Homo sapiens: one gene and its partner. The protein of the gene in region 1 interacts with the protein of each later gene in a biochemical or structural test. Each region holds a gene or a part of one and is shown on either strand. Other genes may lie near its edges.

What was found. Proteins that work in one complex are often made in the same cells at the same time.
Region 2: the proteins of KIT (region 1) and NHERF2 interact in a test that uses a peptide from one of them, tested with the Homo sapiens proteins (one large-scale study listed by IntAct).

What each region holds. Positions count from the first base shown.
Region 1 is NC_000004.12:54,737,936-54,741,347, forward strand, and holds the end of KIT (mast/stem cell growth factor receptor Kit isoform 1 precursor), read left to right. Parts: intron 1-493; coding exon 494-622; 3' UTR 623-2,780; downstream 2,781-3,412. UniProt on the Homo sapiens protein: Tyrosine-protein kinase that acts as a cell-surface receptor for the cytokine KITLG/SCF and plays an essential role in the regulation of cell survival and proliferation, hematopoiesis, stem cell maintenance, gametogenesis, mast cell development, migration and function, and in melanogenesis.
Region 2 is NC_000016.10:2,033,287-2,036,939, forward strand, and holds part of NHERF2 (Na(+)/H(+) exchange regulatory cofactor NHE-RF2), read left to right. Parts: intron 1-7; exon of another isoform or gene 8-65; coding exon of another isoform or gene 66-146; intron 147-302; exon of another isoform or gene 303-2,398; coding exon of another isoform or gene 2,399-2,407; intron 2,408-3,037; coding exon 3,038-3,217; intron 3,218-3,441; coding exon 3,442-3,595; intron 3,596-3,653.

The DNA.
Region 1 (3,412 bases):
TCTTTCCTAATAGCACACCACTGATAATTTTTGGGTTAAAGCTTGTTCTTCTGGGTGTCAAAACATGTTTCAAATTGAACAGCATTTTCCACCCAGTTGCTTTGATTCTTGACAAGAGACCCCTGGAAGGGCCGTGGGTTTCCCAGCAAATTACATTGGTTATTGGGTTGTAGTTGCTGGAGAGATTTACAAGCCTTTTAAATAGGTAAGATAGTGCTTGGTGCCTGGTGTGCCCTTTTAGAAGAGCTAAGCTTGTGCATGTTTTGTCCCCACTTCTTGTATAAAGTTATTTCCTTGGAAAAATGAAGGGGGAAAACAAAGCTTATATTTGTTTTGTCAGTATGACTTGGGTTTTGGCCACAAAGTTCTTGGAAACCACTTCTCTCTTAAGAGTTTCCATCAGTTAGTTGTGATCTTGACACTGTAAGTATGCCTTTTGTTGCTATGTTCGTTGTAGGGACTGCTGTATTGACTATGGGCTTGTTTTCTCCAGATTTACTCCAACTTAGCAAACTGCAGCCCCAACCGACAGAAGCCCGTGGTAGACCATTCTGTGCGGATCAATTCTGTCGGCAGCACCGCTTCCTCCTCCCAGCCTCTGCTTGTGCACGACGATGTCTGAGCAGAATCAGTGTTTGGGTCACCCCTCCAGGAATGATCTCTTCTTTTGGCTTCCATGATGGTTATTTTCTTTTCTTTCAACTTGCATCCAACTCCAGGATAGTGGGCACCCCACTGCAATCCTGTCTTTCTGAGCACACTTTAGTGGCCGATGATTTTTGTCATCAGCCACCATCCTATTGCAAAGGTTCCAACTGTATATATTCCCAATAGCAACGTAGCTTCTACCATGAACAGAAAACATTCTGATTTGGAAAAAGAGAGGGAGGTATGGACTGGGGGCCAGAGTCCTTTCCAAGGCTTCTCCAATTCTGCCCAAAAATATGGTTGATAGTTTACCTGAATAAATGGTAGTAATCACAGTTGGCCTTCAGAACCATCCATAGTAGTATGATGATACAAGATTAGAAGCTGAAAACCTAAGTCCTTTATGTGGAAAACAGAACATCATTAGAACAAAGGACAGAGTATGAACACCTGGGCTTAAGAAATCTAGTATTTCATGCTGGGAATGAGACATAGGCCATGAAAAAAATGATCCCCAAGTGTGAACAAAAGATGCTCTTCTGTGGACCACTGCATGAGCTTTTATACTACCGACCTGGTTTTTAAATAGAGTTTGCTATTAGAGCATTGAATTGGAGAGAAGGCCTCCCTAGCCAGCACTTGTATATACGCATCTATAAATTGTCCGTGTTCATACATTTGAGGGGAAAACACCATAAGGTTTCGTTTCTGTATACAACCCTGGCATTATGTCCACTGTGTATAGAAGTAGATTAAGAGCCATATAAGTTTGAAGGAAACAGTTAATACCATTTTTTAAGGAAACAATATAACCACAAAGCACAGTTTGAACAAAATCTCCTCTTTTAGCTGATGAACTTATTCTGTAGATTCTGTGGAACAAGCCTATCAGCTTCAGAATGGCATTGTACTCAATGGATTTGATGCTGTTTGACAAAGTTACTGATTCACTGCATGGCTCCCACAGGAGTGGGAAAACACTGCCATCTTAGTTTGGATTCTTATGTAGCAGGAAATAAAGTATAGGTTTAGCCTCCTTCGCAGGCATGTCCTGGACACCGGGCCAGTATCTATATATGTGTATGTACGTTTGTATGTGTGTAGACAAATATTTGGAGGGGTATTTTTGCCCTGAGTCCAAGAGGGTCCTTTAGTACCTGAAAAGTAACTTGGCTTTCATTATTAGTACTGCTCTTGTTTCTTTTCACATAGCTGTCTAGAGTAGCTTACCAGAAGCTTCCATAGTGGTGCAGAGGAAGTGGAAGGCATCAGTCCCTATGTATTTGCAGTTCACCTGCACTTAAGGCACTCTGTTATTTAGACTCATCTTACTGTACCTGTTCCTTAGACCTTCCATAATGCTACTGTCTCACTGAAACATTTAAATTTTACCCTTTAGACTGTAGCCTGGATATTATTCTTGTAGTTTACCTCTTTAAAAACAAAACAAAACAAAACAAAAAACTCCCCTTCCTCACTGCCCAATATAAAAGGCAAATGTGTACATGGCAGAGTTTGTGTGTTGTCTTGAAAGATTCAGGTATGTTGCCTTTATGGTTTCCCCCTTCTACATTTCTTAGACTACATTTAGAGAACTGTGGCCGTTATCTGGAAGTAACCATTTGCACTGGAGTTCTATGCTCTCGCACCTTTCCAAAGTTAACAGATTTTGGGGTTGTGTTGTCACCCAAGAGATTGTTGTTTGCCATACTTTGTCTGAAAAATTCCTTTGTGTTTCTATTGACTTCAATGATAGTAAGAAAAGTGGTTGTTAGTTATAGATGTCTAGGTACTTCAGGGGCACTTCATTGAGAGTTTTGTCTTGGATATTCTTGAAAGTTTATATTTTTATAATTTTTTCTTACATCAGATGTTTCTTTGCAGTGGCTTAATGTTTGAAATTATTTTGTGGCTTTTTTTGTAAATATTGAAATGTAGCAATAATGTCTTTTGAATATTCCCAAGCCCATGAGTCCTTGAAAATATTTTTTATATATACAGTAACTTTATGTGTAAATACATAAGCGGCGTAAGTTTAAAGGATGTTGGTGTTCCACGTGTTTTATTCCTGTATGTTGTCCAATTGTTGACAGTTCTGAAGAATTCTAATAAAATGTACATATATAAATCAAGTGGAGTCATTTGATTGTTGAGATTCGTTGAGATTAAACTTTAAAGCATTAAAGTGCAATCATCCTGACAAAGTTTTGTACGCAGTTTTCATAAAATATGTGCAGGGCTATCAGATCACGCTAGGATTTACATGCTTCGAGATTCAACAGATATTAAGAATTTTCATACGTGTGATATTTTCTCATTTTAGTCTTACAACCTGAGGTCTCTATTTAAATTGAAAAATAGATACAGAGAAGGTGCTTAGTATGTATGAGCTGGGTGCTGTCATGTGGGTGAAACATTATGCATGCCCAATTGGTACCGTCCAGACCACTGGAACCCAAACAGAGGCTGAGAGTTCTTCAGCTTGAAACAAAAGGAAGCACCCTGAATCACATAATCTTATTAAGAATGAGGCACCCACACACCCTCAGTCATGACTGTCTTTATTGACGTGACATCTACACCTGCAGAAATGTCTCCTGAAAGGAAAGGGAAGGGGTGAAAAGTGACCTGTAATGAAAAGGAATCCTTTTAAAATCCAGAGGGAATTGTGTGGCAAGGAATGCGTCAATAATCAGTGAAAAACAGACCCACATTTCAGTCAGGCAATTCCCATTATTTTATTGCAGACAGGAATGAATGCTAA
Region 2 (3,653 bases), on another chromosome or scaffold:
GTCGGCCAGAGAGTTCAGGCCACCCCGGCCGGACGCCTGCCACTTGCTGTCACTGTGCCGCTGTCATGGCACGCTCCGGGAGTGCCACGCCACCTGCCCGGGCTCCGGGAGCCCCTCCACGGAGCCCACCCCAGAGGCTGGTACAGGTCAGGTGGGGTGGGAGGAAGGGAGGGCTAGGAGGAACCGGCAGCCGCTCAGCCTCCCGGGGTGGAAGGAGGGGACTCCGGGACCTTGATGTAAGCAGGCTGGTCGCTGAGCAACAATGAAGGCCTTTCTCTGCCAGGGCTGGTGCGTCACCATCTGGGGGGGTGCCCAGGGTACCCCCATGCCAGCCTCTTTGTCCGGACACAGGCATGGCTGGGGGACCAGGGATGGTCCAGCTCTGTGCTGGCCGCCGGCAGGGAGGGAGCCTGGAGCCCGTGGGAGCCCGAGGGCCTGGCGGGAGGCGGCAGGAAGTGTGTGCTGAGCCAGGGCAGGGAGGAGGAATGTGAGCTATGAACGCCGCCCGAGCTCCTCGGCTCTCTGGGCCCCCCTTCCCCACGAGCCCATGTGCTGCCAGCAGCCCACCCTGGCCCCTCCATTGCAGCCCCTCCACCTGAGGTTTTAGTGCTGTGCCTGGCGCCACTGGGACCCTGCTGACAATGAAGGGGTTTAGGTTTGATAGGCAGAACTTCTTGCCTTGTAGAGTGAAAGACGGCTGCTTCTGGACAGAGGCAGAGGGGTGGCCAGAATGACCCTGAGAACACTGAGGGGTCCTTGGCCTGGCCTCAGGGCCCCAGACACCCACCAGATCCTGCTTCCTGTCTGGTGCCCTGAGAAACCCTGCCCCGCAGGCCGCTGTGCAGGCGTGGGAAGGGCTGCCGGGCCAGCACTGTGGGGCTGGCCGCATGTGTGGGCTGCTGTGCGTGTTTGCAGGTGTGTGTGGACGTCTTGTGTCTGTGGCTGTGTGATGTGTCTTTGCGGACTGGGCCCATATCACGCTCCCACCTCCTCCACTGAATTGGGCTCCTGTCCCCACGCCTTCCCTGCGTCCCAGGCCAGCCTGGGGGCCGTGCTCCACCTCCCCTCCCGAACTGGACTCCTGTCCCCACGCCTTCCCTCCGTCCCAGGCCAGCCTGGGGGCCGTGCTCCACCTCCCCTCCCGAACTGGACTCCTGTCCCCACGCCTTCCCTCCGTCCCAGGCCAGCCTGGGGGCCGTGCTCCACCTCCCCTCCCGAACTGGACTCCTGTCCCCACGCCTTCCCTCCGTCCCAGGCCAGCCTGGGGGCCGTGCTCCACCTCCCCTCCCGAACTGGGCTCCTGTCCCCACGCCTTCCCTCCGTCCCAGGCCAGCCTGGGGGCCGTGCTCCACCTCCCCTCCCGAACTGGACTCCTGTCCCCACGCCTTCCCTCCGTCCCAGGCCAGCCTGGGGGCCGTGCTCCACCTCCCCTCCCGAACTGGGCTCCTGTCCCCACGCCTTCCCTCCGTCCCAGGCCAGCCTGGGGGCTGTGCTCCACTTCCCCTCCCGAACTGGACTCCTGTCCCCACGCCTTCCCTGCGTCCCAGGCCAGCCTGGGGGCCGTGCTGTGACTGCATCCCTGAGGGGCACTTTGGTGGGCAGGTGTCAGGGTCAGCCTTGAAGCCCCACGCCTGTGCCACCAGGTGTGTCTGGGGGAGGAGTGAGTCTATGTGGTGGGGCCCTGGAGATTTTGGGGGTCTTGCACCCTCTAATTCAGCCCATGTGGCCCAGCTGAGCCCCTGTGGGGCCAGGGAGCCACAGGCTTGTCCCTGGAGTTTCTGGTGTGACGGGCTGGGTGGTGGCCATGCAGAGAGGGTTCAGAGGGTGGGCAGGAGGCTTCAGATGAGGCATCTGGCAGGCTGGACAGGAGAAGGGTGTTCCAGACCAAGGGCAGGTCCTGAGCCCAGGGGACAGAGCACTAGCTGTGTGGAGAAGGACCCCCTTGCTCCCTTGGCGGGGCGGTCCCCCCCGCTGACATGGCCGTTTCTGGTCCATTGGGGTTTGGAGCGAGCTTGAAGGTGGGTGGCTGGAGGGGTTGGGGGTGTCTGAGGCCTGGAGACCTGCCCTCCTGAGGTCTGAGCGCCCCCTTGCCATGCCGCCCCAGCCCTGGCCTGGCCTGGCCTGTGGTCCCTCAGGGACACACAGGGAGGTAGGAGGTGAGGGAAGGGCCCTGGCAGCCCCCAGCCCGCCTGCACAGTCTCCCCTGCGCACGCCCTCAAGCTTGGCGCTCCCTGGAAACCTGAGCTGCCTCCTGCCTGCTCCGGCCACCGCCATGTTTAACTGAGCACGGGCAGCCGCTGGCCACCGCCGCCGCACCCTGGCCCACCCCCTGGCTGGGAGGTGGTCATTGGGCCTGGCCTTGCCTGCATGGTCCCCTGGCCCAGAGCCCTACCGCAGGATGCCAGAGGTAACATGGGGCAGGGCCTGGGATGGTAGCGGGGGGTCCTTCCGGGCACCAGGAGGCCCTCTGTGCCCTGTCCACACTAAGCTCCTGCCCCAGCCCCTGCTTGCTGGGCCCACGGGGGTGGGGCGGCTCATTTTCCTGGAATGTGAAAGCAAACAGAGCCGCCACCGCAGCCAGCCCCACGGAGGCCTCTGGAGAGAAAACAAAACTGCTGGCCTAGGAGCGCCTGCCCCACGCTCTGGAGGAGAGCCCGGGGCAGGGGGACGCACAGGCAGAGCCCTCAGGGACAACCGCCCCAGGAGGCCAACGGCGACAGTTCATCCCACCTGGTGCTTCCTCCCACCCTGCCTGTGCGCCACGCTGGCCTCGAGCCAAAGGAATTCTCCCAGCAACCCGGGAAGGCGGCTGGGCCCGTCGGGGAGGCTTCTGGGTTTGAAAACAGGCTTTGCCCAAGTTCCCACAGCTAAAGCTCTGTCACAGGCAGCCTGGGTGCCCGGAGTGTTTGCCACTGAGACCTGGGCCTGCCCGTGGGGGGCACGGTACCGAGTTTGGGCAGTGGCGGCACCACCGGGGAGTGGCCTCTGGAGGCGGGAGGCTGGAGCAAGAGACTGACCCTGTCCGTTGGGCCTGCAGGATGTCAGTGGGCCCCTGAGGGAGCTGCGCCCTCGGCTCTGCCACCTGCGAAAGGGACCTCAGGGCTATGGGTTCAACCTGCATAGTGACAAGTCCCGGCCCGGCCAGTACATCCGCTCTGTGGACCCGGGCTCACCTGCCGCCCGCTCTGGCCTCCGCGCCCAGGACCGGCTCATTGAGGTACCGGCCCACCAGGGCTGCGGGGTGCCGAGTGCCCCGCACCTGTCCACACTGGGGCCCTGGGTCCTTGCAGGGAGGAGGGAGACGCTGGGAACCTGAGCTGGTGCGCCTCCTGCTGCCTCGGTGGGCGGTGGCTGTGATGAATATTTGATGCCACACCTGGCCACGCGGCGTTGGGGGCTGTCTGGGCCCATGGCGGGGCTGATACATGCTGGTGGCGGCAGGTGAACGGGCAGAATGTGGAGGGACTGCGCCATGCTGAGGTGGTGGCCAGCATCAAGGCACGGGAGGACGAGGCCCGGCTGCTGGTCGTGGACCCCGAGACAGATGAACACTTCAAGCGGCTTCGGGTCACACCCACCGAGGAGCACGTGGAAGGTGGGCCACGGCCCAGGGCACAGGGTGGGTGCGGTGTGGTGGCTGAGCAGCCACTGAC